Linked DNA regions of Homo sapiens. The protein of the gene in region 1 purifies or fractionates together with the protein of each later gene. This does not show direct contact. Each region holds a gene or a part of one and is shown in the gene's direction. Other genes may lie near its edges.

What was found.
Region 2: the proteins of TRHDE (region 1) and FKBP14 purify together in Homo sapiens (affinity purification with mass spectrometry; 2 studies listed by BioGRID and IntAct, with this or other methods). This does not show direct contact.
Region 3: the proteins of TRHDE (region 1) and MANEA purify together in Homo sapiens (affinity purification with mass spectrometry; 2 studies listed by BioGRID and IntAct, with this or other methods). This does not show direct contact.
Region 4: the proteins of TRHDE (region 1) and EMILIN2 purify together in Homo sapiens (affinity purification with mass spectrometry; 2 studies listed by BioGRID and IntAct, with this or other methods). This does not show direct contact.

What each region holds. Positions count from the first base shown.
Region 1 is NC_000012.12:72,268,407-72,275,380, forward strand, and holds the start of TRHDE (thyrotropin-releasing hormone-degrading ectoenzyme), read left to right. Parts: upstream 1-3,963; 5' UTR 3,964-4,237; coding exon 4,238-5,151; intron 5,152-6,974. UniProt on the Homo sapiens protein: Specific inactivation of TRH after its release.
Region 2 is NC_000007.14:30,010,057-30,016,702, reverse strand, and holds the end of FKBP14 (peptidyl-prolyl cis-trans isomerase FKBP14 precursor), read left to right. Parts: intron 1-1,809; coding exon 1,810-1,968; 3' UTR 1,969-6,116; downstream 6,117-6,646. UniProt on the Homo sapiens protein: PPIase which accelerates the folding of proteins during protein synthesis. Has a preference for substrates containing 4-hydroxylproline modifications, including type III collagen. May also target type VI and type X collagens.
Region 3 is NC_000006.12:95,601,516-95,608,545, forward strand, and holds part of MANEA (glycoprotein endo-alpha-1,2-mannosidase), read left to right. Parts: intron 1-3,311; coding exon 3,312-3,388; intron 3,389-4,232; coding exon 4,233-4,890; 3' UTR 4,891-7,030.
Region 4 is NC_000018.10:2,892,005-2,899,034, forward strand, and holds part of EMILIN2 (EMILIN-2 precursor), read left to right. Parts: coding exon 1-482; intron 483-3,877; coding exon of another isoform or gene 3,878-4,017; exon of another isoform or gene 4,018-4,186; intron 4,187-7,030. UniProt on the Homo sapiens protein: May be responsible for anchoring smooth muscle cells to elastic fibers, and may be involved not only in the formation of the elastic fiber, but also in the processes that regulate vessel assembly. Has cell adhesive capacity.

The sequences.
Region 1 (6,974 bases):
CTTCTGTACTGTATATTTTTCACAGAAGTCCAGAGCTGAAAGATACCCCCAAATCTAACTCCTTTACACTAACATATTGAGAAATTGAGTCCATTAAGTACTGGGTTAGGACAATAGAGGAAGATGAAGGTGATCAGGATCTAGTTCTTTCCCCCGAGCCAAGCTGTTTCTGGACATGAGGTTTTACTCACATGTGAAGAGACTGAGTACCCGAGGACACCTAACTATGTGCTTCTATATACAAACCAGTGTGAAAAGAAACAAAAAAGGCAGTTAAATTGTAAACAATCAAATAGTAAGACCCTGGAGCCAATACATTCACTGAAGATAGTTCATTTTGATCATTTCAGGACCAAGGTGTAGATTTTATTAAAAACAACTTCTGTTTGGCCTCATGTATATTAAATATTCAGACAATTTTTACTTTTACAAGCCCCTGAATCAAATATGGCCACATCATGACTTTAGTGATATTTATTAGCTAAATAAAGTAATCATAAAATTCTCCTAACAAATAAACATGTTTCTGAGAGAAACATCAGGTACTTTAGGAAGTTTAATTTCCTTGTTTACAGCACCACATGGTCCCAGTATTGGTAAAATCAAACCTATCTTGAATCCAGTGACCTATAACACTGAAAGCAACCTTAAAAAGGAATATTAGTAAACTATGTCTTTATTTTTGTGAGGTGCGAACTCTGAAATTTCACCCCCCCACTTTTGCTTTGAAGGTAGAATGGACATTCTCTAGAAAAAATAATATTTAAAAATTATTTTACTAAAGTGCTTGCTTCTTTGGGAAAGCGTGCTATATATTTTCAGAAATTAAAAAAATAAAACTCACTGAAGACCTTTGTAACACTGATATGAAAGGAAGAAATATTTACCTACTTGATCTTGATAGTAAGTTTTATTATGCAAAGTTACATTTAAGGGGAATCCATGAGCTAGTAAGTTGTGTCCATTCTATATTAATAATCTTATGTCCACTCCACTTGGGTCTGAAAAAATAATCCATTTACTAATTTAATCACAGTTAGTAGAGACTTTATTAATTGGTAAATGTATTATTTAATTCTGAAATATTTGAGACTTTCCTTGTAGTAATTTTCAGAAGTACATAAACACATTAGTGAAATACAAAGAAGAACAGATGGAGGTAAAGAGAGGAAAGAGATAACAGACTGAGAACCGTGAGTGAGGGAAAGGGGAAAGATGAAGAGAACTGGGTTAAAGGGTACAAACACACAGCAAGACAGAAGGAATCTGGCTGTTCACTGTTTGAGAGCACAGTAGGGTGACTATACCTTGCAAAAATGTATTGTACTCAGGTGATGGACACCTTAAATACCCTGATTTTGATCACTACATATTATGTGCATGTAACAAAATTTCTCATGTATCCCACAAATTTGTACACATTTTTAAAAAAAGACAAACAGAAAAAGCCTTCTTTGAATCTTTTCTTGACTAATGTTTTAGAAAGAGAAAGTCTTAAAGATCCCTTAGTGGGTAACCTCTTCCTTTAGGCAGTGGGTCTTAGACTCCCCGGGATGATTCCAGAAGCCTCTGATAATCAAATGTACTCAATCCATGGATATTGGATCAGTAATACTAAATTACCAGTTTAAAACCCTAAAGTCAGAGAAGTCTGGTGACCTGCTGAGGATCGCAGGGCTCCTCTTACTTGCTTGCACTATAGTTCCTGATTCTGTGAAAACAAACCAATGAACCCCAACTCCTCAACTCTTAAAATGCATACAGCCAGATACATATGGACAGCAAGAGTACAGACATTTAAAAACAGAGCAGAAAAAAGTAACTTGAACAGAATGTGGCATTTCCCTTGGTCTGTTGCTAACGGCCCACATACAACATGCTTAAAAAATCCCACCCTGGCACTTATTTTCATCATCATTTAAAAATGATTCAAATGGACATTTAGAATGCATGGCATTGAGCATGTATCCCATCTGGGGATAAATGAAAAAGGGCTTCCTCGAGCAGGGCTGTGTTTTTAGTGGTTATCAAGCTAAGGTTAATGTGTAATTGGTCTCTTCTCTTTGGTCATGCTTTTAAAGCCAAACACAATATTTTAATTGTCTATTTTCAGTACTCCAAAGCCAGAAGCATTAACCAGTTCTTTTTGTAAGAAAATAGCTATGGACATGATTTGTAAAATGCCTTCAAGATTTGAAGACATGAAAGAAACATGTAAAAAGGAATTACCTAATTTTCTATTATTCACTTTTTTAATTAACCCAGAAGCCAATCACACTTTGTTTTACTAAACACTGGAGACTCCTGCTTCCTAGATGTCACCTTTGGGGTGGCTGTTTTCTGAATATTGTTCCAATTAGAGTTCTTCGCACAAATTCTGAAGGTTGGATATCCCACATACTTATACATACTCTGCAGTATAATTTTAAACTCCAATATACTCAGACAAGAGTCCATAACCAGCCAATGGGCTATGAACCTATTTTGATGCTGCCTGCTGTCAGCAAACTGGTCTATTGATAACTATCCTAACAAAGTTAAAACAATGTTCATGGTAACACTGGAAAGCTGCAAGAAAGTAATTATGGCTAGGTGAAATGAAAAACTGACCAATCATGGAATGTATTCGTTCACCGTTCTAATAAGCCCAGCTTTTCTCAGTCTCAGGGTTTTGGTCCTGAATGTTACACTGTAGACATTGTGTGTTAATCGTTTCTCCAATCTAAAGATGGGAATTATCCTATGGGGAAAACATCACCTTGCTTTGGCCTTTACTTCCGGAGGATTTTAATGCTTCATTGCTAACATTATTTTAGTACTGCACACCTGGACACATCGCACAGTATAATGTAATATATGTAGTCAGGTTTTGGAGAATTTATTTCAATTTACATACAATCCTCCAAATCCTCTGGCGAGCTTGATGTGAAATCTGACACAGCCACATCTCCCTAGCAGGATCTTCTTTTGCTCTCTATGTTAATAGCCAAAGGCTCCAAGGATCTCTCCCTGGAGCGCGGTGGGGCTAAGGAGTCAGGAAGAGGGGTGACTGCGGGGCTTGTTGCGCTGAAGATTTACAATGTACTTCTTGCAGGCGGCTCAGCAACCCCCTCTGTGGCTGTGGGTGTCTGGTGTGACAGAGCGGAGAAAAGCTCTCTAATCTCCCAGTGCCTGCCTCTGCCGCTCAGTCGCTCCCCTCCCTCCCGCCTTTCCTGCCTCCTCGCGCGCTCCCTCTCCTTTGCCTTTCTCTGGGAGTTTCAGTCCCTCAATGCAGCTGGAGTAGCCCTGGCAATCTAAACCCGAAGCCTGTGTATATACACACACGCACACACGCGCACACACATGCACACGCGCTCGGACATACGCACTTCGGCTCTCCCCCTTGGGATATGGAGCAAACCCAGAGCTTCATCTACCTGAAGGGGATGGCCCGGCCGGACACTTCTTTCTCACTTGTCATCTCCGGAGGGCAGAGCAAGACTGGAATGAGGGAGTCTCGCTGTCGGGTCTGCAACCTCCTGCCGTTTGCCGCCACCGCCGCTTAAAGTGCCCAGGGTGGAGAAGGCTTTTCCAGGACGGATCTCCGTCGTAGCTTCGCGGCCCTGGGACTTCCTCCTGCTGGTTCACTCTAGTCTCTCCCACCTCGGCCATCCTTTTCTCTCCAGCTGCAGGGTGTATGGCTCGGGTGCCTCCCGTGCTGTGGCCGCCGTCACTGCTGCTGCGAGCACATTCCACCCAGAGGACCGAACGCCGCCGCTGGAGTGGGGGGAGAAAGCGAAAGCCCTAACTTCCCTCTCTACACCCTCGCTCTTCCCACCGCTCCCGTCCTTCTCCCTAGCCGAGAACCGGTTGGAAGGCTCCCGCGGAAAGCGAGGCGAGAGCGCGGCGCAGGGGAGGGAGAGCCGGGAGCCGCAGGCGCGCAGGGGCGGGGGCAGCATGTGCCCCGCCGCCGGGTGCTCGTCCGAGAAGTAGCGCGCGCTGGGCAAGCAAGACGCTTTCCAAGTTGGGCGCGTCCCAGAGCTCACAGCCCGGTGTCCAGAGTGAGGCGGGGCTGATGGGGGTCGCGGAAGCTGCCGTCGCTTGTGTCCAGAACCCGTCTTAAAAGAACCCGGGCCAGCATCCCCAGTCGCGCGCCCTCGGCCCGCGTGAGCTCTCCGATGCCTGCTCTGGCTGTGGCCCGGGTGGCCCGCCCGCGGGGGGTGCCAGAGGGGGCGGGGGAGGAGGAGGAGGCGGTGTGATGGCCCTGGACGGCGAGCTGGGGGAGCAAGAGGAGGAGAAGAAAAAGAAGAAGAAAAAGAAGAGGAAGAAGAAGAAGGAGGAGGAGGAGGAGGAGGAGGGGGCCGAGAAGAGCAGCTCACCCTTCGCAGCCGCGATGGGGGAAGACGACGCCGCGCTTCGGGCTGGCAGCAGGGGGCTCTCCGACCCGTGGGCAGACTCAGTGGGAGTGCGACCCCGCACCACGGAGCGCCACATCGCCGTACACAAGCGGCTTGTGCTGGCCTTCGCTGTGTCCCTCGTGGCATTGCTCGCGGTCACAATGCTCGCTGTGCTGCTCAGCCTGCGCTTCGACGAGTGCGGGGCGAGTGCCACGCCAGGCGCCGACGGTGGCCCCTCAGGCTTTCCGGAGCGCGGCGGCAACGGGAGCCTCCCTGGATCGGCCCGGCGCAACCACCACGCAGGCGGGGACTCCTGGCAGCCCGAGGCGGGTGGGGTGGCCAGTCCGGGGACCACGTCGGCCCAGCCGCCGTCGGAGGAGGAGCGGGAGCCGTGGGAGCCGTGGACGCAGCTGCGCCTGTCGGGCCACCTGAAGCCGCTGCACTACAATCTGATGCTCACCGCCTTCATGGAGAACTTCACCTTCTCCGGGGAGGTCAACGTGGAGATCGCGTGCCGGAACGCCACCCGCTACGTAGTGCTGCACGCTTCCCGAGTGGCGGTGGAGAAAGTGCAGCTGGCCGAGGACCGGGCGTTCGGGGCTGTCCCTGTAGCCGGTTTTTTCCTCTACCCGCAAACCCAGGTCTTAGTGGTGGTGCTGAATAGGACACTGGACGCGCAGAGGAATTACAATCTGAAGATTATCTACAACGCGCTCATCGAGAATGAGCTCCTGGGCTTCTTCCGCAGCTCCTATGTGCTCCACGGGGAGAGAAGGTATGGAGGGAGGCGGTGCCCCGCGCTGCCCCACCCCGGCGCGCGGCTCGAACCTCTGGGCGGCCTGCGACCCCGGGGACCCAGCTGGCTTCCAATACCCGGGAAGCCAGGGGTGGGGGGAAGGAAACGAAAGCGGAGTAGGGCAGTCAGAACTCCGGGGTCTCCCAGATGCCTCGGGGTCTCGCTGCCGCCAACTTCGCAAACTGACTCACCGGTGCCAAAAGATGAATGCTGCCCCCTCCTCTAGTCGGGACCTCTCCTCTTCCTGTCAGAGTTCCTTAGCCATCGAAACGCAGGGCTCTTTTTCTGAAGGGTAGCTGATAATCTGAGCGATGCCAGAGTGACATGAAAAGCTTGCCAAGTTACTGTCGAGGGAAAATACGTGGCGCTGAAGGCCAAGACAACAGCGCATCCAGGTTAGCATGTCAGGGCAGGTCAGGGACACACCGTTCTCCACCCCCACCCACAACATGCCCATCTTCCCTGACTATTAGTCTCCTGCCAGGTGCAGAGCAGAGGATGGGCTTTGGCTGCGTCAAGTTTCCCCAAACTTCAAGTTGAGATTCGGAGTGAAAAGAGTGGTTTCCAGAGATAGGCTGAGAGGACCGGGACGGGGGTGGAGGTTGCCAAGGCCAGAGCCAGCGATAAGTGGCCTCGCGGGCGCTGCCAGCTCTGTGCTAAGGCAGGGCGACTCCGGTTGTTTGTTTATGAGTTGCTGCCTCTGGAGATGATTCCAGTGGCCAAGCGGTGGGAAAGCTAGTTGTCAGTCTCAAATGCCTTGTTAGTGTCTTTGCCGCGTTTTACATTTGTGTAGTTTTGTATTTTTATAAAAAATTTCCGAGAGGCCGTGGAGCTTTTCACCACTTGTTTAGAGCTCAGACCTCATAATCCAATAGAACTGAGTTCGAATCTCTGCTGTTCATCTAACTCTGGTGGAGGTTTGAGGAAGGTAATTAACCTTTTCCTGACATGACTACTTCTAGTGCTTATTGCACGCCCATGTACTCAATCCGACAAGAACCCTATGAGGTAGACGCTATTATCAGCATTCCCTATTTTACAGGTGGGGAAATGGAGGCACAGGTGTGTCACATAGCTTGATCAAGATCACCAAGAGTGAGCAGACAAAGCACGGATTTAGACCCAGGGAGTCTGGCTCTTGAGCCTAGACTTTTAATTCTAACTTGGGGATACCAATAATAATATTCTACTTGTAGGATTGGTGTAGACGTCTATGAGTGAATGCATTACAAAGTACTTACCCCTGTGCCTGGCATATAGAGTATCCACCATAAATGCTAGCTCTCATGAGTGTCTTGTGGCAGTAAGCTCTCAGGTATATTGTTGAATGAATAAGTGATTCTTGTTCTTTGCTCTAATTCCCACATTGCTAAGATAACTTAGATTAATTAAATGACTGAGGGCAGATGAACAACCAAAGTGAGCTTAAAAATTAAACCAACAACTTTAGAAGAGGAGGCAGGTTACAGATCAGTAATGAGGCAGAGCCTCTCCTTTTCTCAGGTGATTCTCACAACAGCAGAAAATGGGCTCGGAGAAGCCCAGGGCCCTGGAGGTGAGCAGGCTTGTCAGTGGAGAGTTAGGACTTGAACTTTGGTTCTCTAATCCCTGGACCAGACAGAGCTTATGGTGTTTGGAAACTCTCAGAAGAAGTTATTGTGTAAGAGGCTGGGGAAATTGCAATGTGTTGTGAAAGTAAGCAAAAGTTTTATTATTTATAGAGTTCTATGAAGTAACCTCCTATAAATAAAATGCCCAATGCTTTAGTAGCTGTATGATAGTTAAAACCTCCTATAAGTGAA
Region 2 (6,646 bases), on another chromosome or scaffold:
GAAAATGGAGTCCGGGCATGGTGGCTCACACCTGTAATCCCAGCACTTTGGGAGGCCAAGGCAGGCAAATCTTCTGAGGTCAGGAGTTCGAGGCCAGCCTGGCCAACTTGGTGAAACCCTGTCTCTACTAAAAATACAAAAATTAGCCAGGCATGGTGGCAGGTGCCTGTAATCCCAGCTACTAGGGAGTCTGAGGCAGGTGAATCGCTTGAACCTGGGAGTTGGAAGTTGTAGTGGGCCGAGATCGTGCCACTATACTCCAGCCTGCGTGACAGAGCAAGACTCTATTTCAAAAAAAAAAGAAAAACAAAAAAACAAATGAAAATGGAAAATTGTAGTCTAGGCACTTATCAGACCTGACTTTCTGAGATTGAAAGGTTGTGATTAGACTCAATCTAATCACATGATCATAACCAAAACCCAAAAGACCCACTACTTGCAGACATTTATTCAAGTCAAAGATGCCACTATTTAATCTAGTTTTAAGAGAAGTGTCCATGGGGTGCAGTGGCTCATGCTTCTAATCCCAGCACTTTGGGAGGCTGAGGGGTTTAGATTGCTTGAGCCCAGGAGTTCAAGACCAGCCTGGGCAACATGGTGAAACCCCATCTCTACAAAAAATATAAAAGCCAGATGTGGTAGCACATGCCTGTAAGTCCCAGGTACGTGTGAGGCTGAGGTAGGAGGATTGCTTGAGCCTGGGAGGCAGAGGTTGCAGTGAGCTGAGATGGTGCCACTGCACTCCAGCCTGGGTGACAGAGCAAGATTCTGTCTAAAAGGCCGGGCGCGGTGGCTCACGCCTGTAATCCCAGCACTTTGGGAGGCCGAGGCGGGCAGATCACGAGGTCAGGAGATCGAGACCATCCTGGCTAACACGGTGAAACGCCGTCTCTACTAAAAATACAAAAAATTAGCTGGGCGTGGTGGCGGGCGCCTGTAGTCCCAGCTACTCGGGAGGCTGAGGCAGGAGAATGGCGTGAACCCGGGAGGCGGAGCTTGCAGTGAGCCGAGATTGCGCCACTGCACTCCAGCCTGGGCAACAGAGTGAGACTCCGTCTCAAAAAAAAAAAAAAAAAGATTCTGTCTAAAAAAAGAAAAGAAATGCCTAGTATTTAGATTCAGATTAAGAACAAGTAGTATGCTCTCATTGGGTATTCTCCAATAATATAAGCCCTATATGAGGATTGTATACATGACATAAGCTTTATCTCTGCCTTTGAGCAATATATATATAGAGAGAGCTATATATATATATATATTTTTAATTTTTTAATTTTTTATTTTTTTGACAGAGTCTCACTCTGTTGCCCAGGCTGGAGGGCAGCAGCGCAATCTCGATTCACTGCAACCTCTGCCTTCCAGGTTCAAGCGATTCAACTGCCTCAGCCTCCTGAATAGCTGGGATTACAGACGCATGCCATCATGCCTGGCTAACTTTTTTTTGTATTTTTAGTGGAGATGGGCTTTCATTATGTCGGCCAGGCTGATCTCCAACTCCTGACCTCAAGCAATCTTCCCACTTGGGCCTCCCAAAGTGCTGGGATAACAGGCATGAGCCACCACACCTGGCCCTGCCTTTGAGCAATATTTTGTGTCTCCACTTTAGCAGTTTAGCAACAGTTTTTTTAAGGGAAAAAGTTTCTATTATTTTTTAATTATCATTAAAACTATGTCATAAAATGGCTGTTTAGAAGGTATTATATTTAGTTAATGAACTAAATATAATAACAGTCCATGTCTGTGATATTGATTGGCTCAATGTGGGTATCTTATGAATCCAAGTTATTAATGGGATCTGTTATTTTGTAGGTTAAAGCATATTTAAAGAAGGAGTTTGAAAAACATGGTGCGGTGGTGAATGAAAGTCATCATGATGCTTTGGTGGAGGATATTTTTGATAAAGAAGATGAAGACAAAGATGGGTTTATATCTGCCAGAGAATTTACATATAAACACGATGAGTTATAGAGATACATCTACCCTTTTAATATAGCACTCATCTTTCAAGAGAGGGCAGTCATCTTTAAAGAACATTTTATTTTTATACAATGTTCTTTCTTGCTTTGTTTTTTATTTTTATATATTTTTTCTGACTCCTATTTAAAGAACCCCTTAGGTTTCTAAGTACCCATTTCTTTCTGATAAGTTATTGGGAAGAAAAAGCTAATTGGTCTTTGAATAGAAGACTTCTGGACAATTTTTCACTTTCACAGATATGAAGCTTTGTTTTACTTTCTCACTTATAAATTTAAAATGTTGCAACTGGGAATATACCACGACATGAGACCAGGTTATAGCACAAATTAGCACCCTATATTTCTGCTTCCCTCTATTTTCTCCAAGTTAGAGGTCAACATTTGAAAAGCCTTTTGCAATAGCCCAAGGCTTGCTATTTTCATGTTATAATGAAATAGTTTATGTGTAACTGGCTCTGAGTCTCTGCTTGAGGACCAGAGGAAAATGGTTGTTGGACCTGACTTGTTAATGGCTACTGCTTTACTAAGGAGATGTGCAATGCTGAAGTTAGAAACAAGGTTAATAGCCAGGCATGGTGGCTCATGCCTGTAATCCCAGCACTTTGGGAGGCTGAGGCGGGCGGATCACCTGAGGTTGGGAGTTCGAGACCAGCCTGACCAACACGGAGAAACCCTATCTCTACTAAAAATACAAAAGTAGCCGGGCGTGGTGATGCGTGCCTGTAATCCCAGCTACCCAGGAAGGCTGAGGCGGCAGAATCACTTGAACCCGGAGGCGGAGGTTGCGGTAAGCCGAGATCACCTCCAGCCTGGACACTCTGTCTCGAAAAAAAGAAAAGAAACACGGTTAATAACATATAAATATGTATGCATTGAGACATGCTACCTAGGACTTAAGCTGATGAAGCTTGGCTCCTAGTGATTGGTGGCCTATTATGATAAATAGGACAAATCATTTATGTGTGAGTTTCTTTGTAATAAAATGTATCAATATGTTATAGATGAGGTAGAAAGTTATATTTATATTCAATATTTACTTCTTAAGGCTAGCGGAATATCCTTCCTGGTTCTTTAATGGGTAGTCTATAGTATATTATACTACAATAACATTGTATCATAAGATAAAGTAGTAAACCAGTCTACATTTTCCCATTTCTGTCTCATCAAAAACTGAAGTTAGCTGGGTGTGGTGGCTCATGCCTGTAATCCCAGCACTTTGGGGGCCAAGGAGGGTGGATCACTTGAGATCAGGAGTTCAAGACCAGCCTGGCCAACATGGTGAAACCTTGTCTCTACTAAAAATACAAAAATTAGCCAGGCGTGGTGGTGCACACCTGTAGTCCCAGCTACTCGGGAGGCTGAGACAGGAGATTTGCTTGAACCCGGGAGGCGGAGGTTGCAGTGAGCCAAGATTGTGCCACTGCACTCCAGCCTGGGTGACAGAGCAAGACTCCATCTCAAAAAAAAAAAAAGAAGCAGACCTACAGCAGCTACTATTGAATAAATACCTATCCTGGATTTTAAAAAAGAAAAAAATATATATAATTTTATTTTAAATTGGCTTTTATCTTTAATTCTTTTTTTTAAAGTTATCAAATCTTCATTTTCTAAGAGTAGCCCTTTATAGTGTACAAAATGATATTAAGTGCATTATTATCTTCGCTTTTCATGGCTCTGAGTCATAAAACAAGCTGGTGGATCTCACTGTACCTAATTTATAGACGAGGAAATTGTCATTCAAAAAGATTGACTGTTATGCCCAGGGTCAGCACTAACCTGCAGAACCAGTATTCAGTCCCCAAGTTCAGTGTCTTCTACTGCCCTCTACTAATGAAAAGTGAAAATTTCCCTGGGGTCTAATTCTCTCTTCAGTTTGCTGTGCCGTTGTTTATCTTTGAGTCTTCATTCTCTGAAGATGGCTTTCTGCCTGTTTCTGGTACATTAGAATTCTCACTATGATATAGAAATGGCTTCAGTTTCATAGCATAATCTTGCAGTTAGCTCTGAATTGCCTCAAAAACCCTGAACAACGCGAGGTTCCAGATGTGTTTTACTTCTTTCATTCATATTTACCCCCATTTGTTGTTTAAAAAGAATTATGAACAATTATTACATCATATGTAGACCACTTTCACTGATTATATGTTGACATTTTCCTCAGTAAAACATAAAGTTCTTAACAAGACTATACTGTAACACCTTTCTCCAACAAAATCAGCTGTATGTTGAAAACTATTAAGTCATTGCTAATGTTTTAAGCCATAATACAGACAGCCTTATACTCTATGATGGGAGAAGGGAAAGTAGTTTGTCCGATGGTGCTACTCTGTATAAACATTACTGATGCTATCTATAGTAGGGCAAGAAAAGTAAAAAGAGTTTTGATTATTCAGGCAGCATTTTTAAAAACCTGTGAATTTGTATCAGTTCTCATCTAAACATTTGGACACAAGTATAAAATGAAAACATATGCACAAGTTATGGTTTTTAAGTTATCTGCTCTTTTTTTTGGTTTCACTGTACCTTTGTACTCTTCTATTAGTGGGAATAATCAGACATGAACTGTGACTTCACATGTACAGTCATACCTCACTTAATGATGGAGATGCACTCTGAGAAATGTCTAATTAGGTTATTTCATCGTTGTGGGAACATCATAGAGTGTACTTACACAAACCTAGATAGTGTAGCCTGCTACACATGTAGGACATGTATATAGCCTATTGCTCCTAGGCTACAGCATGTTGCTGTTCTGAATCATGTAGGCAATTGTAACACAATGGCAAGTGTCTGTTTATTCAAACATCTAAACACAGAAAAGATACTACAACAATAACAATATGGTATAAAAGATTTTGTAAAAAATCTGGTCAGGTGCAGTGGTTCACGCCTGTAATCCTAGCACTTTGGGAGGCTGCCTCAGCAGGTGGATTGCTTGAGCCCAGAAGCTCAAGACCAGCCTGGGCAACATGGCGAAACCCCGTCTCTGCTAAAAGTACAAAAGCTGAGGTTGGAGGATCACCTGAGCCTGGCAAGGTCAAGGCTGCAGTGAGCCATGATCATACCACTGCACTCCAGCCTGGGTGACAGAGTGACTCCCCATCTAAAAAAAAAAATATATATATATATATATACTATATATATATATATACCATATATATGGTATATATATATATAGTATATATATATATGGTGTGTGTATATATATATATATGGTATACCTGTATAGGGCACTTACTAACGGAGCTTACAGAACTGGAAGTTGCTCTGGATGAGTCAGTGGTGAGTGAATGTAAAGGCCTAGGACATTACTGTACACTACTGTAGACTTTATAAACACCGTACACTTAGGTGACACTAAAATTTATAAAAAATGTTTTTCTTCTGGTTGGGCATGGTGCCTTATGCCTATAATCCCAGCATTATGGGAGGCCAAGGTGGGTGGATCACTCGAGGTCATGAGTTTGGGACCAGCCGGGCCAACATGGCTAAACCCCATCTCTACTAAAAATACGATAATTAGCCAGGTGTGGTGGCACATGCGTGTAGTCCCAGCTAATTGAGAGGCTGAGGCAGGAGAATTGCTTGAATCCAGGAGGTGGAGGTTGCAGTGAGCCAAGATCGAACCACTGCACTCTAGTCTGGGTGACAGAGGAGCAAGACTCTGTCTCAAAAAAAAAAATTCTATAATTTTTATAGAAATAATAAAAAACTAACCTTAGCTTACTGTAAATTTTCTAGTTTAGAAACTTATTTAAAAACAATTTTTGGACTCTTCTAGTAATAACGTAGCTTAAAACACACATTGCATAGCTGTACAAAAATATTTTCCTTATATCCTTATTATATAAGCTTTTATCTATTTAAATTTTGAATTTTTAAACTTTTTGGTCAAAAACCAAGACAAACACACTAGCCTAGGCCTATGCAGGGTCAGGATCAAGACATCCCTAGCAGGTGACAGGAATTTTTCAACTCCATTATAATCTGTGGGGCCACCATCATATATATATTGTACATTGACCGAAACATGGTTACATGACTATATAATTTGCGTCAATACTGCTCAGTGTGCCATATTTAAATTTACATGACTATATTGTGATATTCTTTTCAAAATAAAGTTTATTTGGGAGATAACTGATTTTGTGAAAAATTCTTCAACACCAATTTCCTCAGCAGTTGTACTGATTTTCTTACCTGTTATTCTAAATTTTATACCAAAAGTGAGGAAGATGGACAGGTAGTGGAAGGAGAGGGGTACAGTGACACTTTGTGCCTCTGATTATCTGCTCTGTATAGGTATATTTGTAAGAAAAGCTGTGGTTTGATTTAAATTCTTTTGAAATATGCATTAAGTCTTGACCTTTAGCATGATAGTTAATAGTTAATTCTTAGCACTGAAGAAAGTGTTTTTGGTTTTTCGAGGGGGAGGAGGGAGGGTGATGGTTATTATCACTGTTGTTTTGGTTTAGGGTTTTATCGTGTGTAGCAGGTGGACACACTGATTTATGCCTACTGCGTAAATCAGTGCTATAAAATACCCTCTGATTAAACGAAATGCGGGGTTGCCATGAAAATAACGAGAAACAATGATTTCTGATTCAGATGAAGAATCTAGCCATTTGGATCTTTCCTTATGGAAATGAATTTGTAGTTTTTATTTTATT
Region 3 (7,030 bases), on another chromosome or scaffold:
AATGACAGACACGTGGAGCTGATTTGAACCAGCCTGGAGCAGAACCATCATAAGCCAGTTCATAGATTTTATGTTCGAAAAGCAAATGTTTGTCTTTTAGAGCCACTGAGATTGTGGGGTTGTTACATGGCATTATCTAATCAAAACTTGACTGAATTAAATCATTCATCTAAGTAAAAGAAAATTAGGCAGATTCAGTGATTTTTTTTTTTTTTTTTTTTTTTTTTTTGCTTAGGATTATAGGGGAAAGAACCAACTCAGCCCTGGTGATCTTCTTTCATTTTAATAAATTTAGTATGTTATTTTAAAGTAGCATATTTTCTTTCTACTTTATGCAGAAATCACATTTCTTATACTAGGTTTATCAACATCCATTATTTCTTTGCATATGGCTCTAGAGTCATTTTATCTGCTTTTCAGGCTTATGCAGATTTCAACCATGTGAAACATGAATATAAGTATGTCCGTGATTCTTTTTTAAATGATTTTCACCTACATTTGAAACATGTTATATTAGTCATGGCCTCTCCTTTTTCTTTTTCCTTGTTAAATGAATATTGTGAATTCATGGCAGAAACTTTGGGAATCTTACCTAAATCCAGTATAAGTGACAGACTTAAGAGTTTAACTGTTGTTTGTTTTTGCATGCAAATCATTAGTCCATTTATTTATGCATGCATTCATTCATTTAGCACCTGCTACGTGTCAGATACAGTCCCAGATGCTGACAATATTAAGAAGAAGGATGAAGTATTATCTCTTTCCCTAAAATGCCTTGTAATCTACTGGAGGTCAGACACAAAGACAAGTAAATTTCAGGAAGAGAAAAGTATGAGGTATTATGGCACCACATAGGAGTAGGAAGACCTACCTCAATTTTGTTGTGGCAGGGGATAGGGGAGTGTGCAGGGGTGAAGGTAGAGAATAGAGTTGGAGAAGGAGAAAGTTATCAGATTTTCATTCAAAAAAGTTCATTTTATTAAAATTTATTTATTAAAGTTATTAAAATGCAGGGTAGGGAAGAGACAGGAAAGGTCAAAATTAAAAACATGAAATGAGGGAATGTTTATATTCTTATTCTTTAAAGATAAGAAAGACATTTCATTTTATGTATAGAATTCTGTTATTTTAAAATTTATTTTAACATTGATCTAATTGATTTTTCCAAATGGAATAGAGAGATGGAGACTAGATCACATCATTAATTAAAATTGCAAAGTAATGGCCGGGCGCGGTGGCTCACGCCTGTAATCCCAGCACTTTGGGAGGCCGAGGCGGGTGGATCATGAGGTCAGGAGATCGAGACCATCCTGGCTAACAAGGTGAAACCCCGTCTCTACTAAAAATACAAAAAATTAGCCGGGCGCGGTGGCGGGCGCCTGTAGTCCCAGCTACTCGGGAGGCTGAGGCAGGAGAATGGCGTGAACCCGGGAAGCGGAGCTTGCAGTGAGCCGAGATTGCGCCACTGCAGTCCGCAGTCCGGCCTGGGCGACAGAGCGAGACTCCGTCTCAAAAAAAAAAAAAAAAAAAAAAAAAATTGCAAAGTAATTTTATTATAATTAAGAAATTAGAAATACATGAGGGAAAATTTTAAATATTTTATACTTATCAATACTATATTTACTTTAAATATATTGATCTGCGCTTTACAAAAATAGCATGCTATTTGTTGTTTGCAGCTGTAAAAGCAAATTCATTTTGATATAGGATATTTCAAGTTGGATATTGCTTAAATATGGTGTCCTTTATGTATAAAATGGAAATTTAGAAAACACAGTGATGTAACTGAAGGAAGAATTACCCAAGGAAACATTATGTAATAGTATGAAAATACCTATACACTAGGCAATTTGCTTTCAACTGAATTTAAAAAGCAAATACCAAAGTTATTGAGAAATCTAGCTGCCCTAGCAGTTACTACCCTGGCAATACTAACAATATGCTGCAAAAATTAATTTGACCTTAGTTTTTTATGACAGAAACTTACTTTTATAATATTACTGTAATCTCATTTAAAGTAGAAAATTATATTTTTTTTAAATATTATTTAACTTTAAAATTAATTATGTGAAAACAAGTAGCACTGATTAATGTAAAATACATTTTGCTTTAATTGGGTAATTGAAAACAGAGGAGTTTCATATTGCAATAGAAGTCTCTAGTTCCATAAATACATCATAGAGCCTGAAACCTAAAATTAAAACAGTATCAATACATTTATTAGACTGCCATAAAGATTTTTAGTTGATGTTGGTAAGTCAGTAAAACTAGGAATAAAAGTGAAAATCCTCATTCTTTGTTTTATGAATCTGAAATAGATTGTCATCTAAGAGAAGTATCTTCTGTATTTTTTACCTTACTAGTTAGAAGTAGCATACAGAATGGTTTTACTAGCCATAATTAGTTTGTCTTGATTTATGTATAGCCAACCTTAAGTTAAAAAATTTTAGTCTGTGCACAGTATTTTAAAAATATTTGTAATTACTGCTCTCTATGTTTACATATATATATATAATGTATGTATGTGTGCGTATATATGTATGTAGGTGTGTGTGTGTGTGTGTGTGTGTGTGTGTGTGTATGGGATATCCAAACCATAAATACCTAGGCATCATGAAAAATGTCCTTTATAACACTAGTGGATATTATTTTTAAGCGATTTCATTATAAATTCTTTAATAGAAGTTAATGTATATTATTTTGTAAAATGCTGTTTTAATGATATGGAAGAATTTATATGTAAATAAATTTGCTAATGACTTCTATTTAAATTTAAGCTTAATGGTCACATGCCTGAAAAAAATCCAGATTTTTCTGGACCATATTTTTTTGGTCTTTTTCCTAAAAGAAACATATATCTGAATATAGAGTATTTCCTATATATATTATATGGGATACAAATATGTAAGAAACATTTTTATAAGGAGTAAACATAAAAAGAAGCATTGCACAGCAGTTAAGCATTTGAACTCGGAATTCAGATCATCAATATTACCTCCAACAAACTGGGTGACCTGGAACAACTTACTGAACCTTTCTTAAGGTTCTGTCTATCTTTGATTACCTCACTAAGAAAACAGAAATACCTTAGGGAGTTGTGAAGATTAACCAAGATAATAATATAAAATGTTTAGCATGTTATTTAGCAGTAAATTTTATTGGTAAAAATTCTCTGGTAGTTTCTGTGTTCAATAAATATTCATCTTTAATTAAGGTGATTAAATCAGTTACTTTATTAAATATATTAAGTATACTTCTAATTTTACATTATAGATAATTTATCCCCTAACTGATTTTATTGTTTGTTTTAGGTTACTTTTCACATAGAACCATATAGCAATCGAGATGATCAAAACATGTACAAAAATGTCAAGTATATTATAGACAAGTGAGTTTCTTCAATATTTATAAATATTGTTATATTATCCAGTGATAATTATTGTTTTAAGAATAGTACATTAAATTATATTTGAGATTTGAATGATTTATGATTATTCCATTTTTAATAAAATTAAATTGTTATTGTAATGAATGTCACCATCATTTCGAAGAACATTGCTGAAGTTTCTTATAATTCACTTTCTTTTTGGAAGATTGCTGTTTTTACTGTTTTACAGGTTTATAGGCTATTTATGATTTCTGTAGTTTTGATATTTTAAAATGACATTATTTTCTAAACCTTCAGAATATAGCTTTATCTTTTTAAAAAGAAGGTTCAGATTATTAAAAGTGAACTACTTCTTTTAACACAGTAGACCCAGAGCTGATATTTTCATTTATATCTAGCCTGATCAAAAAGAATTTATTAATACAGTTTTCATTTTTTGAAAGAATTTTACTGATAATAGTCTGTGACAGATGCCATAGTCTTACAAAGAAACTTGTCAGCAACAGTAGAACATTTATCACTGATAGATAAAAAAGCAGTTTAGGTATTATGTAGAGTATTATTTATAATGTAGAGACATAGGCTTTTTATGGCATTAGTCATCATTTGTAAACCTCAATATGAGATGGTTAATACTTGTTTGGTAATGCATCCAGTATCTCATTTTCTAATGTGTAAAATTAAAAATGCATTTTTAATTATTACACTTACACAACTGATTCCCCTAAGAAATGGAGCAGTGTGCTCAAACTGCACTGACTCCTTCATTTTCAGTAAACAGTTTTTGTCTGTGGCAAATTAGTTGTGAATATTCATTTCACTTTTATATATGCTTATTTTCTAGATATGGAAATCATCCGGCCTTTTACAGGTACAAGACGAAGACTGGCAATGCTCTTCCTATGTTTTATGTCTATGATTCCTATATTACCAAGCCTGAAAAATGGGCCAATCTGTTAACCACCTCAGGGTCTCGGAGTATTCGCAATTCTCCTTATGATGGACTGTTTATTGCCCTTCTGGTAGAAGAAAAACATAAGTATGATATTCTTCAAAGTGGTTTTGATGGAATTTACACATATTTTGCCACAAATGGCTTTACTTATGGCTCATCACATCAGAATTGGGCTAGCCTAAAATTATTTTGTGATAAATACAACTTAATATTTATCCCAAGTGTGGGCCCAGGATACATAGATACCAGCATCCGTCCATGGAACACGCAAAACACTCGGAACCGAATCAATGGGAAGTATTATGAAATTGGTCTGAGTGCCGCACTTCAGACACGCCCCAGCTTAATTTCTATCACCTCTTTTAATGAGTGGCATGAAGGAACTCAGATTGAAAAAGCTGTTCCCAAAAGAACCAGTAATACAGTGTACCTAGATTACCGTCCTCATAAACCAGGTCTTTACCTAGAACTGACTCGCAAGTGGTCTGAAAAATACAGTAAGGAAAGAGCAACTTATGCATTAGATCGCCAGCTGCCTGTTTCTTAATGCATTGATTAAAGTTTAATAGTTATCAAAATCACCTAATTTTTAAAAATAGCTTTCGTTTTGAGTTCTGGAAAGAAAACTGTCAAAATCAGTATATACTATTAGTTATATTTAAAAATATTTTTTTAAATTCTTTACAGATAATATTATACTTGTTACCCTTCACAATACCACATGAGAAAATATCTGAGACAAAATGTATACAAATATATTCCTTATGGCATAATTTATTGCATTTCTGACTGAAATCAAAATTCTGATTTGATGGCAATTGAATTTTCATTTTACAATAGATAAATGCTTGTGCTACCTAAAGCACTTAGCACACAGTTAAATTATATTTACATCCTAGACCCAAATAAATAGGATTGTGTGTATATTTGGGATATCTATTGAAGAAAAAAAGAAAACCCCTTAAAGATAATGTACATGCTTCATGTCATGTCTTTAAAATAATTTAATCAACTTTATTGTCTTAGTATTTAGACTCTGGATAACTCTACAATAATGAGGAAATTCTTAAGAATAACAAAATCACTGTACCTTCCTCTCAATTTTGCTGTGAACCTGAAATGGCTTTAAATTAATACTCTTATTTTTTATTTAATTTAATTACATAAATTAAACCTTACCATGACCAAATTGTGTTAGGACGGCCTGCTATCTACAGCACAGTGTGTCATTTGCAGATTTGTGGTTACCTATACCACGCTAGGTGTTTTGACATGTTTAGTGTTTCTGCTTTACAGTGCTGAATTCCATATTTTAGAAGCTATGAAAGTCCTTTTATGAAAAAGTTACTGATTGCTTCTCAGTTATTAGGAAAACAGTTGTTTCACAATTATTATGTAGATATGATGCCCAAATATCATTTTTAGTATATCTTGTCGATCTTTAAGTTGTTACTATTGTGTTATTCATGTCTTTAAATCAGATACCAAATATTTTTTAGGAAAGAAAAATGTTATTACTGTCATTAGGTTGTCTTTTAATACTTTAAGTTATTTTGACGAAAAGTAATAGAGAAAATTTACTTAGCATTTTAGATTCTAGAGACATGGAAATGAAAATTATTTTATGTCTAGAGTAGGTCCTGAAGTTTGGCTTTACATTAAGTTTAGCACTGTATCAGAATGAAGAAACTAATATTTTACATAAAAACTAATACTTTCAATTTTTTATATAGTAATATCCCCATTTTGTAAATGTTAGACTTTTATCATACCTGTAAGTTAAAATACTTGTTATCAATAACTTGTCATGTTGTGACAAATTGATCACTTGTGTACGAAAAATAAATCTCCTTAAAAACTAAATAAAATGCACTGTATTCTTACAGTTAATGTTTATAACTATAGTAAAAAATTAATATATATCCTATTACATAAATGTTATTTCTTAGGTGTTCCATTAAGAAGAGCAATAGAATAATGCTAAAAAATAATGCCTATAAATCTTCAGAGTATAAAGACATCCATTCAGAAACAAAAATTAGCACTAAATTTTTTATAAAATAGACCAGATGACAAAATTTATTTTATTTTTAAACAGTGGTTTTGACACAAATTATGTTATTGAAAAGCATTATTAATGTTTAATTTATTTAAAATTTTGGAATTTGCCATTTCTCAGAGAATGATCAGGCCTTAGGAAATTAATACAGTAGTAGTAATCATTTTCTAGGGGAAAATAAAAGAATAAATCACTATACTGATATTTTGATACAAGCAAGCACTTACATGGTAATCACTATATAGATCCAACCTGTGGATTTTCTTCTTATGTCCATTTAACTAGAATATATTATTTTAGGTATAATTTACAAATGTCACACCTAATAATCTTTTATAATATACCATATTTCATTAAAGTTTTGTTAGAGAAGTATCTACCACAGAGGAGTTTTTGTCATTGTGTACGTTGTGTATTTGAACCCACCATGACAGAAAGTAAATTTTAGGAAATAGTTATGAGATTAAGGGAAAATCTATAAAAACAAGGTTAGCATATTCTCAACACAGATACCACCACTTTCTTTTTCCCATTATAGACATGGTGAATCCACACAGCATACTTCATCTCTGAGCTTTGTTGTGATTCCTCAACACATTACCCTAACCAGCCAGCAGTAACAGATTTC
Region 4 (7,030 bases), on another chromosome or scaffold:
AAAGGAAATGAGCAATTGTAGAGCAGGTGAAAACGCTGGCATGGGTAGGTTCACTAAGGTGGGTGAGCAAGAAAGGACAGTGGACACCCTGCCGTCCCCCCAGCACCCCGTGGCTCATTGCTGCAGTCAGCTGGAGGAGAGGTGGCAGAGGTTGCAGAGCCAGGTCATCTCGGAGCTGGATGCTTGTAAGGAATGCACGCAGGGGGTCCAGAGGGAGGTCTCCATGGTGGAGGGCAGGGTGTCTCATATGGAGAAAACTTGCAGCAAGCTGGACTCTATCTCAGGAAATCTTCAGAGGATCAAGGAGGGGCTCAACAAGCATGTCAGCAGCCTGTGGAACTGTGTCAGGCAGATGAACGGAACGCTCAGGTCGCATTCCAGAGACATTTCTGGCCTGAAGAATTCAGTCCAGCAGTTCTACAGCCACGTCTTCCAGATTTCTACTGATTTGCAAGATCTGGTCAAATTTCAGCCATCAGCAAGTAAGTTGAATATTACAATTCTATTTCTTGTATTTCTTTGCAGCACGCAACAACATTTTAAAAATAATTTTTTGTTCATTTTTGATATTGTTGAAACTTCATGAGGTAAAAATGTGACAGTATTATGCTAGATTTTGGACAGTTCACGGAATGAACTAAATGCCATCAGTCCTACCCAAATGTGGTTCATAGATTGGTGCCTGAATTATCTGGTGCTGAGTAGCAATAAGATAAATATATATTCTCAGTGTTAATATTTAGGAACTTCTAAAATAATTTGACAGACTGGTTGCAGTGGCTCATGCCTGTAATCCCAGCACTCTGGGAGTCAAAGGAGGGTGGATCACCTGAGGTCAGGCATTCGAGATCAACCTGGCCAACATGGCGAAAATCCGTCCCTACTAAAAATACAAAAATTAGCTGGGTGTGGTGGCACGCGCCTGTAGTCCCAGCTAGTCGGGAGGCTGAGGTGGGAGAATTGCTTGAACCTGGGAGGCAGAGGTTAAGGTGAGCCGAGATTGCATCACTGCACTCCAGCCTGGGCAACAGAGTGAGGCTCCATCTCAAATAAATAAACAAACAACATTGCAGTATTTAAGCACATGATCTACGTAATTTACAAAAATATCAGTTCACAACACATTGAAAATAAAAAAGGAAAACTGGTTCTTCCCACAGATGGATAGCCAAATATTATCTGTAGAATCAGGCTGGTGAGCTCAGAGTTGGGGTCAGATTTTTGGCATAACAGCTTGGGGCAGTGGGTGTTGTCCTCTCTTCTACCTAGGGAGTCTCCTACGTACCTCTCTTCAAGCATCACTTTTTATCTGTGTCGTTATCATCTTCAGGGCTTAGCTGATGGCAGATAGGATGCTGTCATATTTGTTTCCAGACACAGGACCGTGGATGAGAGCAGTTTAGGGACAGGAAGTATCTAAAGCTCCATAGTGCCTGCATCCAGGAAGCTCAGCAGTAGTGCTGAGAGCAATGCTGGCTACACCTTAGGCACTCAACAAATGTTTGTTGAATGAATGAATGTGAATGAATGAATAATATATGTAATAAGATTTTTTTGTTACTTGTGGGTGCTAAACGCAGCCTTCTCAAAGGACAGAGCTTCTCTTGTACCTGGGTTTGTACTCTGAGACAGCCTCCGACATAAGCTAGCCCTCTCTAGTCGGAGTCTGGGCGTGAAAGGAAGGAAGAGGGAGCTCGCGTTTTTGAACACTTTCTATGTACAGCACTGGCTTGGTCACTTCAGGGGGACTGAATCCTATCATGGCCTCACAGAAAGGCTGTTTTCCAACAGGGAAAATGTGCCCAAAGTCATGTGGCTGTTCAGTGGGGGAGCCAGGATGGAAACCAGGCCAGGCTGCGTCCAAGAATTGTTTTCTTGCAGTCCAGCCATGATGACTGTGTGTCTCCCAGAACTGAGTGCAGACTTACTTGGTCCATGGGGACTTGTTGAGGGGCCTGCTTTGTGCTAGAAGGAACCTATTCCTGACCTCCCCCTCCCTGTTTTCTTTTCTCCCATCCTTGCCTTTGGGACTTTTACCTCCCTGACCTGGTTCCGCTCTGGGTGACACAGGCCCTTGCACAAGGAACTGAGATTTCATGGCCTCTGTGAACCTTGGGATTTTATGATCAAGTCCCAGATGAGACATAAAACCCAAGGCAGCGTAGGCTAGAACGTGGGAAGCAGGCGAGCTCTGGCTTGGTCAGGGAGAGCCAGGGCCAGGTCCTGGCAGCTCAGGAGGGTGGAGAGGGTCCGAGGTAGGTGGGAAAATGCCCTGGATGTCCCCAGAGCACTGTGCTTATCTTGCAGATGACGAGTCACCTAGGCCCAGGAGGACCAGGAATCTGGCCGCCACCCGAGTGTCCAGCCCACTGCACCTCACTATTTATAACCCAGCCCTTCCCCCACTCCAGGGCCACTCAGCTCCTCTATCTCTGGAATGTTGAGTAGAGGTCACAAGACCATGTATGTGTTCATAGAATGATTGTCCCTTGTGGTGACAACGCTGTCTGGTCTGTGTCTTACGATAACAGGTTGAATCAGATATTTCCAGTTGATTTGGAACTCCCTGGTGGCGTGGGAAGCTGTGTTAACATTTTCGCATTTGTCTGTTGCAGTAGGAGTTGGGGGGTGAATTCTTTTAAAAGAGAATGTGCCATACAAAACATTATCCCTTTGGACTGAACTCATTGTGGTGAGTGTAGACTGCATGGAGTTTTGAGAATTTCATTGATTGGAAAAGAGCCAGAAATAAACAAGCAGAGCCTCCTCTGCCCTTGTCTAGCATCCAGGTCTAGGAGACCTGGAACCTGAGTATCAGAGGTGCATGGGAGAATCTGGAGCTAAGGTCACAATGAAAGTGACATGTCAATCAGTTAAAAGTCAACAGAATGTTTATTGAGTGCCTACGATGTGCAAGGCTCTTGGGGGACCTGGAGATAAGTAGGCATAATCCTTATTCTAAAGCATTTGCAATCACAGTGGGAAAGAGACTCACAGGTCTGCAGAGAGATGAATGAGATTGTTTGTGGCATAGCAGTTTATCCCTTTAGTTCATAAGCTCTTACTGAGCCCCTATTATGTGGTAGGTAATGGCTGTGTGGGGGAGTATGTGGATAAAAGTCTGATGGGGAAACAAGCAGACAGATGGTCACAGGAATGGGGTGTGGTGTGCATGAGCCACCTTGAGTGTTCAGAGAAGCACCCACAGTGGAAGTCAGGGAGGGATTCTCAGGAGAGAGCCCTGAGCTGAGCCCTCAGTGTAGGTATTTACCGAGCAGAGTACAGAGGCTGATGGGGTGAGGAATAAGGTGAGATGAGAGAAGCTTCCAGGAGGAGGTGTTACTGGATCTGATTGAGGGATGGGTGGGATTCAGAAAGCAGGAGGGGAGGACATTGTGGATTAGCTATTTATTGCTTTATAACAACCCATTCCAAATCTTGCTGGCTTAAAACAACAAAGATGTATTAGTTTCCATTATTCTGTAGGTCAGGAACCCCGGCAGGGCTTGGCTCAGCGGTTCTTCTGCTCTATGTGGCATCAGCTTGAGTCGCCCACTCAGCTGCATTCAGCTTGCGGTTGACTGGAAGGTCTGTGAAGACTCAGTCATATGTCTGGTGCCTCGGTGCTCCTCCACCTGGCCCCTCTCTCCATGTGGCCAACCTGGGCTTCCTCACAGCATGGCGGTGTCAAGTAGTCAGACTATGGCGACTGTCAAGGGAAAGTGGAAGCTGCTGGGCCTCCCACAGGCTAGCCCAGAGCTGGAGTGGCATCACTGCCACATTCTATTGTCAAAGCAGGTCTGCTCTTGAAGGGTGACGTGGCTGGTATGTTTGGGGAGGGAAGGGGGATTAATGGTGGTCATGATATCTACCACAGTGAGCACAGATCCAGAGGTGAAGATGTGTGATGGTTTTGGACCAGTAAGCAGATCGCCAGACCGGGAACACACACTGTGGTGTTTCTACTCAGCCTGTTGCCCTCTTCACAGATCCTGTTTCCTTTGGAAGCATCACTGAGGTGAGGCTGAATTATCCAAGAAGCAGCCAACAGGGGAGAAGAAGGGCCTTCAGCTGATGCTTAAATAGATCTAAGTCTCTTTTATATCCTTCTGTTAAGGGCATATATATATATAGCATATGTATATATTGCATATATATAATGAATAAATAAATATATATAATTGTTTTTGAGATGGAGTCTCCCTTTGTTGCTGGGGCTGGAGTGCAGTGGCGTGATCTTGGCTCACTGCAACCTCCGCCTCCCGGGTTCAAGCGATTCTCCTGCCTCAGCCTCCCAAGTAGCTGGGATTACAGGTGTCTGCCACCACATCCAGCTAATTTTTGTATTTTTAGTAGAGACAAGGTTTCACCATGTTAGTCAGGCTGGTCTCGAACTCCTGACCTCAGGTGATCCACCCATCTCAGCCTCCCAAAGTGCTGGGATTACAAGCATGAGACATTGCACCCGGTCAGATATATATATATTTGAGACAGGATCTTGCTCTGTCACCCAGGCTAGAGTACAGTGGTGCAATCACAGCTAACTGCAGCCTCAACTTTCCTAGGTTCAGGTGATCCTCCCACCTCAGCCACCCAGGTAGCTAGTACTACTGGCACGTGCCATCGCACCCAGCTAATTTTTTGTTATTTATTTATTTATTTTTTTAGAGATGGGTTTCACCATGTTGCCCAGGCTGGTCTCAAACTCTTGGACTCCAGTGATTCGCCTGCCTCAGCCTGGGATTCAGGCATGTGCTGTAATTACATGTGCTGGGAATTACGGGCATGAGCCAGTGCACCTGGACAATTTTTTTTTTGGAGATGGGGGTCGGGAGACAAAAGGTCCACAAGTCTGGGCACAGTGGCTTACGCCTGTAATCCCAGCACTTTGCGAGGCTCAGACGGGTGTATCGCTTGAGCCCAAGAGTTCGAGACCAGCCTGGGCAACACAGGGAGTCCCTGTCCCTACAAAAAATACAAAAAAATATATACTTTTGAGAAAATGGTCCAGGCAGAGGGAACAGCATTCTCAAAGGCTATGAGGAAGTTCTTTTGAAAAACCCAGAATAGTGGTATGGCCAAGCGTATAAGCAAGGCAGAAGGTCATCAGCAATGAGGTCAAAGCGAGGGTAGGAATGAGATCAGGCAGGCTTTCTAGGCTGTGATAAAGGAGTTGGATTTTAAGTACCGTGAGAAACTATTGAAGGATTTTGAGCTGGGGAGTGATTACTTCCGTTGAAATCCCTGCTCATCCATGCTTGTAAACAGTGGAGGATTAACTAATGTCCTGGACTTAGTAATCACTCAGGAAAATTACCTATTACTTAAACCCTCCATACCCTAGAATGGATGTTTAATCTATTCATGACTGAACTTTTCTCCCTTTCTCTACCTATAAACCCCCAGGCCTCCAGCCTTGGAAGAGAGAGGGCCTGTAAACACAGCAGACACAGGGTGAAGGGCCCTGGTGGCTCCGGTGATGCTGTAGGTGGCCACAGGTTTTTTTGTTTTTCTTGCTTTCCCTTTTTCTTGTTTTTAAAATTAGCGTTCAAATAGACAGTATAAAAAGCCTTAGAAATGGCTGGGCGCGGTGGCTCATGCCTGTAATCCCAACACTTTGGGAGGCCAAGGCAGCAGGATCACTTGAGCACAGGCGTTCAAGACCAGCCTGGGCAACACAGTGAGATCCTGTCTGTACAAATTAAACATTAGCTGGGTGTGGTGATGTGCACCTGTGATTCCACCTACTTGAGAGGCTGAGGCAGGAGGACCCCTTGAGCCCAGGAGTCTGAGGCTGCAGTGAGCTATGATCACACCACTGCACTCCAGCCTGAGCAGTACAGCATAATCCTGTCTCTTTAAAAAAAAAAAAAAAGCCTAGAGATCTCCCTTTTCAGCATTCACAGCTTCATGTATCTCGTGTATCGATAGTTTTTTTGAGCAGAATCTCATCACTTATGAACAAATTAGGTTATAAATGGAAAGGAGGCTCGAGGCCCTTTATTCCCTATGCAGTGTAGCCACGGAGTTGAGCCCTCCTTCCCAGATGGACTCGCTCCCATTTTCACAGGTGCGGGGAGCATCAGGCCTTCACACTCTCTCAGCAGGCATCCTCTTTTGTTCCTTTTTCCCAAGTTGCCCAGCCTTACCCCCACTCGAGTCTGAGTGACCCATGAGTGATTCATAGGGAATTACTCACAGGTATCCCCACAAGTGGGGGTGTGTCCTGGCCACAGGGTCTGCCTCCCAGGCACTGGGTGACCAGCAGAGGCTGACTCCCTGCCTGGGACCCAGGACTAGCCCGGCCTGCAGCCCAGTGGCAGCAGCATGTGGAGAATGGGGCAGCCCGCCCTCCCCAGCTGGCTTTAGCTTCCCCTGGCCCCACACACAGGTTGAGCCTCAGCTGGACCCTGCCTTCCCACTGTTCCTCTCCCGGTAGAGGAAGGAAGGGGTGCTGGTGGCGAGCAGGAAGGGAAGGCAGAGGGACGTAGCTGTGTGCAGGGGACTTCTCTTTCCAGATGTCACGCTTCCAAGTAGAGACAGATGTCTCTTAGATCTCAGCACACTAGAGATAATGGCATCACTTCCTTTTTCTGCTCTCCCACCCCTTTCTGCTCATGTCTCTGAGTAATTTTCATCATAGCGTTTCTTTTAGGAGTGCTGCAGGTTTAAGCGTACTATTTTTATTGAGTTAAGCTATAAGAATGAAAAAGCACAGCCTTGTCAAATAACTATTTAACCAGAAAGCCTGGCCAGGGCACTGCCTGATGCCAACATTCTGACCCCTTTGCCCCAACTCAAAATCAGCTGAGTTTGGGGAGAGTTTAGGCCCAAGGTAGCATGATGGACTTAGAGTTTTATAAACATATAAAGGCTCAATAAATTGCTTATATTCAGGCCATAGGGAACTCCTGACAACTCGCCCCCTTTATCCTGTAGGCACCAGGTTTCTACGATGCCCTTTGGTTCGTGTAAACCGCAGCTGCTCTACTGCATCTTAGCCTTGAACTTAGAGCTGCAGTGTTCGGAG